2 linked regions of the Homo sapiens genome follow. The protein of the gene in region 1 purifies or fractionates together with the protein of each later gene. This does not show direct contact. Each region holds a gene or a part of one and is shown in the gene's direction. Other genes may lie near its edges. The genes, in order: SMAD5 and RUNX3.

Evidence for each region.
Region 2: the proteins of SMAD5 (region 1) and RUNX3 purify together in Homo sapiens (affinity purification with western blotting, with the first as the bait; one study listed by BioGRID). This does not show direct contact.

Annotation. Positions count from the first base shown.
Region 1 is NC_000005.10:136,153,081-136,156,894, forward strand, and holds part of SMAD5 (mothers against decapentaplegic homolog 5), read left to right. Parts: intron 1-511; 5' UTR 512-680; coding exon 681-1,083; intron 1,084-3,814. UniProt on the Homo sapiens protein: Transcriptional regulator that plays a role in various cellular processes including embryonic development, cell differentiation, angiogenesis and tissue homeostasis.
Region 2 is NC_000001.11:24,902,463-24,906,276, reverse strand, and holds part of RUNX3 (runt-related transcription factor 3), read left to right. Parts: intron 1-3,610; coding exon 3,611-3,814. UniProt on the Homo sapiens protein: Forms the heterodimeric complex core-binding factor (CBF) with CBFB.

The DNA of each region.
Region 1 (3,814 bases):
TAATAATGTGACTTCAGTAGTATCATGATTTTTGTCCAAACCTTCTCAGTCTGGGAAACATTTAAAGAGAATAATGACCTTAGAGAAGAGCTGGATTTCTTTTAAGACTTCTATTCAGATCAGGACACAATCACGTTCAAAATTGACATAGCATGTAACATGGATTTCAGTGAAGAAAAGTACTTCAGAATCAAATTTTAGAAGAGTGTTTTAGGGTTTAGTGGCCTAATCAAAGGGAGTCCAGAAGCTATTTTTGGATAATACATAGGAGGTAGAGCAACCTGGTTTTGCCTCTGGTTATCATTTGACATTGCCAGTGTCTTACTTGTTCATATTATGGGGAAGGAATCGAGTGGTCACAGAACTTTTGGAGAAAATTTATCAATTTTTTGTTTACTTTGTAATGCTTTTCTGTTCTTATTTAATAAAATATGCCTTTCGATTATATTAATTTAAATTTGTATATATTGAATTGATTTAAACTAGGATCCTTTCCCCCTTTCTCTTTCAGGACTTGACCCAATGAAAGAAGCATATGGCACTTGTGAAGATAAATGTTACTCCTCCCTTTTTAATTGGAACTTCTGCTTAGGACCTGTGTATGACGTTTCACCTGTGATCTGTTCTTTCGGTAGCCACTGACTTTGAGTTACAGGAAGGTCTCCGAAGATTTGTGTCAAATGACGTCAATGGCCAGCTTGTTTTCTTTTACTAGTCCAGCAGTAAAGCGATTGTTGGGCTGGAAACAAGGTGATGAGGAGGAGAAATGGGCAGAAAAGGCAGTTGATGCTTTGGTGAAGAAACTAAAAAAGAAAAAGGGTGCCATGGAGGAACTGGAGAAAGCCTTGAGCAGTCCAGGACAGCCGAGTAAATGTGTCACTATTCCCAGATCTTTAGATGGACGCCTGCAGGTTTCTCACAGAAAAGGCTTACCCCATGTTATATATTGTCGTGTTTGGCGCTGGCCGGATTTGCAGAGTCATCATGAGCTAAAGCCGTTGGATATTTGTGAATTTCCTTTTGGATCTAAGCAAAAAGAAGTTTGTATCAACCCATACCACTATAAGAGAGTGGAGAGTCCAGGTAGGTCTTATTCCTGAGAAGAATTTGGAAAAACAAAAACAAAAAACCTCTCTTCCTGATATGCATGTAACTAGATTTAGTAATGAAAAGGTTGTATTAGCTTTGTGTTTCCATCTTAAATATTCTAATCTTGGAAGGGCTATTGGATTTTGAGTTTAGCTTTTTATATGTAGGTGATACAATTCTCAGGTGGCTTACTCTAATTCATTATTCACTGTAAGCACCCATATATCTACTCTGCCTTTTCCTGTGGATGACCTGTCTCTGTTTTATTTAAAGCCTAAGCTCCAAGTGTGTACTATATCCCATTCCTTTTTGTCAAATGAAGAACTTTGTTCCTACAGTTATCATCCTTCTCTCCAGCATTATATTTTCCCTTTCTACCAGAGTATTTCTGATAGCATACAAGCATGCCATGATACTACCCATCCTAAAATAAAACTTAAAAAAAAATTCTGCTTTTCACTTCATTCACATAACCCAACCCCAATCACTGCACTGTTTCCACTGGTCCTTTTAGAGGATTCTCCATTTTTATTATCTTTATGTTTCATTTTTTTCTTGTGACTTCTCTAGTTAGTCTTTCTTTCCTACCATTTAACTTGTCGAGATCACTAGTGACTGCCTTTTTATAGGTCAAGGGGTCATTTTTGAGTCTTATCTTACTGTCCGCTCAACTGCATTTGATACAGTTGATCTCCTTCCATCCTACTCAAAACTTTTTCTGTGTTTGGCCCCTAAGACAGTATGCTATCCTGGTTCTCCTACCTCACTGACTGTTCTTGCCCCTCTTTGCTGGCGTATTCTCCTGTTTTCACAGGAGTCAGTCCATGGACCTTTTCTCCATTTATATTATTTCTTTATGTGCTTTCATGCTGTCACATGTCTTAAGATTGTCTATAAGCTGATGCTCACATTTTGAACTCAAGTCAACTTCTCCCTTGAGTTTTAGATTTGTGTATCCAGTTGCCTACTTGACATTTCCACTTGAATATTTATTTATTAAACATACCAAATGTAATATGTCTAAGCGCAGTTTTTTTTCTCTGGTTTCCCCTATTGAAGTGAATGGCAACAGCATTCATGTAATTGCTAATGCCCTAAACTGCAAGGTCATCTTTTATTCTTCTTACTTAAATCCTATATTTAAAATATGAGCAAATGCTGTTTGCTGCACCTTCAAAATATGTCTTAATAAATATGTCACCTCTCATCATTTGTGACATCACTACTTTAGTACAGTACATCATCATCATCACTCACCTTAAGTAGTGTCCTAATTGGTCTTTCTGCGTCTCTTCTTCCCCTTAACCCATTGTGTTTTCCACACAACAGCCAGAATGATTTTTTAAAAACATACTAAATCATGTCAGTTCCTACTGAAAACACTTTCAAGGCTGTCACACTTAAAGAGATTTCTGTAAGACTCTGTATGACCTATCCTCAGAGTTCTCTGTTCCTTGGACTTGCCATACTCCTGTTTCCAGGCTTTAACTCTTGCTGTCTACTTATTCTCCCCCAGGATCTTTCCATGGCACATTTTCTCATTCCATTCAGTCCTTGCTCAAATATCCGCATCACTAATTGACTCTATATTAGATATTTATTTTGTTTATTGACTGACATGAGCAGAGTCTTCCTCTATTTCATTCATTACTCTATCCTTAGTGCTTAGAATAGTATATTGTTGTCTGGCACTTGGTAGGTGATGCTCAGTAAATTTTTTTTATAATGAATGGTATAAGCTGAGCTGCTAGCTGAGTGCATTAGTCATCTATTGCTGCATGACAGATTGCCACAAACTTAGTGGCTTAGCACAATGCATGTTTATTACCTCACAGTTTCTTTGGGTGAGGAGTCCAGTCACATTTAGCTGGGTCCTTTGCAAGGCGCTGTAATCAAGGTGTTGGTTAGGGCCAAGGTCTTATCAGAAGCTCAATTAGGGAAGGATCTGCTTCCAAGCCCATGTGATTGTTGACAGATTTAGTTGCTTTCACATAGCCTTCTTTATAGGTAGTTCACATTCATGACAGCTTCTTCAAAGCCAGTAAGGAAGAGAGGGTCTTCTGGTAAGAAGGACATTATATTCTTGTGGAATGTAATCATACATACGCTGTCACCTTTGCCATATTCTGTTGGTTAGAAGGAAGTGATAGGTCATACTCATACTCAAGCAGGGAGAATTACCCAATGGTTTGAATACCTGGAGGTGGGAATCACAGTGGTTACCTTAGAGTCTATCTGGGTTTCACGTGGAGATGTGTGGTAAAAAGACTGAAAATAACATTGGATGTGGAGACTAGTAGAAAGGATAGCAGATAGCAGTGATTATGCTGTCTGTGAAAGTTCAACTTAAGAGCTTTAGAGTGTCTTTAGACAGTTGGTATGATATGATTCTCAGTTTCTTACTGAGTCCAAGGAAAGCTGATAGCTGAAGGAACTGATGAAGAAAGGAAGATAAAAGGATTTAATAGAGAAGTATAGGCTGAAAAACTCCCAAGCTTGCTATTTGCTAGGAGGGAGTCTAGGAATTTTATGTATTCCCCTATAGCCAAAGTGTGACTAGTAGTCAGCCAGCCAATAGAAATGTCTTATTTTTTGTATACATTTTTCTCAGCTATGATTCATTCTATAGAAAAGACTGGGGCATAGCTCTGATACTTTTAAATAACGGAAAATTTCATGTCTTACTAGTTCAACTATTGGAAAGAGACTATAGAGACCTCATGTT
Region 2 (3,814 bases), on another chromosome or scaffold:
GACCAGGTCCACAGTCTCCACAGTACCTGCTCCCAAGAACTTTCTGTACTTCTGAGGGGACAGATAAAGGGGCCTGGAACAGGGCTGCCAACCGGTCTGCCTGCCCCACCCCCTTTTCCGGTGCCACGCTGAGGTGGGGGCCGACTGGGTCTCTCTACTGACATTGTTCCAGGCATAGTGCTGCAGCCAGGGGCTGGATGCAGGCCTTCAGTGTGAAGAGAGGACCCCTCCCCTTCTGGCCTGGGCTCAGGACTTTTGGCCTTGGTCCTGCTGAGACGCCAAGGTTGGGAGAAGCCCCAGGCCCAGCCTCTCTGAGCCCAGGAGCTAGTGCATTTGAGACTCTCAGCTCTCGAGCCCAGGAGTTGGAGGTCTGCTCTCAAGAGGTAGCGGAAGGAGCCCTGCACGCTGTGCTCACGCCCACCCCTGCCGCGTAGCTGCCTCTGCTTCTGCTACCCATGGGCCAGCATCTGTCGAGGTGCAGTAGCCTGAGAGCCAGCCTTTCTCTGCCATGGACAGAGCCAGGCCAGGGGATCGGGGCTCAGCGGGGGAGCCAGAATCCAGGAGGTGGGGTGAACAGTGGCTTCCTGTCCACCAGCCCCCATGGAAGGAGAGCCCACATCTGCCCATCCACTGCTGGGTGGGCACAGCTTGGGAATCAATGCCTGGCCCCACGGCAGGCACAGCTGCTGCTTCCATCCTGGGCTGGGAGGAAAGGAGCCCAGCCTGTGTGGGGCAGTGGCTGACTTCTGCTTCTCTGCCTGCTCCCTCCTGAGGCCTGGCCCAGTCCCTCGCTAGCCCCCCACAGCACTGGGCCACAGGCAGCCAGGCATCTCCATCCTCAGGCCCATCCCCTTTGGGTGAGAGAAAGGGCCTCGGATGACCAGGACAGGGCGAGCATGAACTCTGCAGTCAGCTGGACCAGGCTAGGAATTCAGGCTCTGCCAGGCATTGGCTGTATGATCTTAGACAAGTCACTTAAACTCAGCCTCAGTTTTCTCATCTGTGAAGTGGGGAGAAGGAGGTCCCTGACAAAGAGGGGTTGCTGGCAGACCTAGGCTTGGGAAGTCACTCTCACAGGCCCTCCTCCCTCTGCCCTCGGACTCCCTCCTGGGGATCCCCCTTGGGACACCCCACCACCACTTCCCTCGGTGCCTGTTAAGTGCTTTGACCCTCCAATATTGGTCACTGGCAAGCAGTGCAGAGACCCCAGCACCTCCCATACCCCAGCCCCAGCCCCCAGCCGCAGCCGCCCACAATGGGGGCTTCTCACAGCTGAAAGGGCTCATTCAGCCACCATGCAGCAGCCCGGACAATCTGGAGAAGAAAATAAACATTTCTTTCCACTGTTGGGATTGGCCACTCGACAGTGCCCCGGGCAGCTCGGGTTTCCTGGGGCTGCGAGGCCGCAGGGTGGGGGTACAGGAGCTCCAAGGAAGCTGCTGGGGGGTCTGAGGGAGTGCTGAGGGCAGGTACTTCCCCCACCACCCCGGAGGAGGGGTGGTGGCCCTGAGGAAAGAGGCTGGAGGGGATGGTGGCAGGTCCAGGGAGGCCCAGCCCAGCGCCCTGCAGCCCGCGTGAGCTCTGAGGGGCACAGTCCTGCCGTTGTATCCTGCGGTCCCCATTTGTTTCCTTCGTCTTGAGAATGGGGTTCCCATCAGGCGGCCAGCACCCACTTCCACCCCACCCATCTCAGCTGTGCTGACGTGCCCAGCACCTGCAACAGGACCTCTCCCCCCGAGGGGCTCCCCAGATGAAAACTGGCAGCCAGGTGCCTCGGAGGCTCTCGGCCTCAAGGGGCCGGGACAGCCAAGTGACCTACTAGGGAACATCCCAGATGTCCCAGAAGGCCCCCGCCACCCAGACTGCTGTCCCCACATCTTCTTACCTTAAGCCAGGAGCATCACTCCGTTCGGATCCACGCCCAGGGCCAGAGTACGCTGCTGAGGGAAACATACCCCAGCTGACTTGGGAAGACCCCAAAGCCCCGAGAAGTTCCAAGTCCCAGCCGAAGTCACACACACCTCAGGCTCATAGCTCTCCGTCCTCAGCCAAGCCTCGGCGTGGCAGGCAGAGCCCACTCCGGCTAGCACCGGCCCTTATCCTTTGGTGGGTGACACAGAGGGGTTGCTGGGCTGGACAGACTGCACCTCTGGACCACTGCTGGGGGCTCATCCACCTCCCCCGGCTGCCAGAGTAGAAGGGAGGCCCTGCACCAGGGCCTCAACTTGGCAGGGCCCTGAATGAGCCAGTTCTCCTGGGTACCCAGAGTAAGAGACACCACAGCCACAGTGGCCTTGCAAAGCCTCATGGACCCCTGCTCTGTGCCCAGTGCCATTCTAAGTACTCGATGTGAATTAACTGAATCCTGATGAACTGTTATCGTCTCATGTTTTATATGGGGAAACTGATGCGCAGAGAGGTTAAGTGACTTGCCCAAGGACACAAAGCTAGTAAGTGTCCAAACCAGGATAACTGTCCGGCTCCAGAAGCCACACAGTAAGCCTTGATCCTGTGCTGCCTCAAAGACGGGACAGCTCCCTCTCAAGTACGTGTTGGGGCTCAGGACCAGAGGCCCTAGGATTGTGTGCCAGGTCCAATGTGCTGTGTGACCCTGAGGGAAGTGCCTCACCCTGTCTGGGCCTCAGTTTCCCCATCAAGGGTGTTAGACTCAATCCCTGAGCCCCTTTGAATGCTGAGGTTTTGGGGGTCTGTGATGACAAAAGTTGGGGACAGAGGATGGAACACCCTTGCCTTGGAGCCCATTGAGAAGCCACATTCCTGGGGGAGCAGGGGCAGAGTCTGGGCTGGACACTGTGACCAGGTTGGGGTCTGGGTCCCCAAGTTTGTCTGACTGCTGTCTCACTTTGCTGCCAAGGCAGGTTAGGGTGGCATCCAGTCACTGTGTGGCCACGAGTCGGCTCCAGAGACACAGGCCCAGGGTGAGGTGGAGGCCAGAGCTCCTGTGAACTCAGTGCCCACAACCCAGGTGTGAGCGCACAGAACCTCCGCGTGCTGCACCTGGGCAGGAGAGGCACGTGTGTCCCCAGCAGAGGCCTTGTGATGAGAACCAGTCCTTTCTCTGCCACAGAGACTCAGTCTTGCTCTCTCTCTGCCTCCATTTTCTTGTCTTCAAAAGCGGGTTCCAACTCCCAGTCTCACACGGTCATTGGAGCCCTTTACACATCCACGGCCTTCCCAGCTGTTAACATGGGCCGGTGGGGAGAGGAACCTGCCTGGGCAGGGCTGCTGGGAGGCCTGAGCTGACTCTGCCCTCAGCCCCACCACCGCATCCTAGGCCTCTCCTCTGCGAGGCTGGGAAGGAGGATTTAAAAAGAAGAATAGACCCCCTCCTCTGTTCTGTTGCTGCTGTGGGGGGGCTCCCATGGCCCCTCTTGGCCCGGGGCACGCTCCAACCAGCTTCCCGGCAGGTCTGTGTTCGGAGTCCTGGCGGGGGAGGCCCCGGGCAGCCTAGGGCAGGAAGAGGAGAGCCAGGTCTAGAACTAGGGGTCCCCCAGATGGGCCTTGGGAACCAGAGCCCAAGGTCATTCTTCAGGAAGCCCTCCTGGGGTTGTCTCGAGCTGGAACTGACCTCTTCCCTGCTGTCCTCCAGGCACCTCGGAACTGAACCCATTCTCCGACCCCCGCCAGTTTGACCGCTCCTTCCCCACGCTGCCAACCCTCACGGAGAGCCGCTTCCCAGACCCCAGGATGCATTATCCCGGGGCCATGTCAGCTGCCTTCCCCTACAGCGCCACGCCCTCGGGCACGAGCATCAGCAGCCTCAGCGTGGCGGGCATGCCGGCCACCAGCCGCT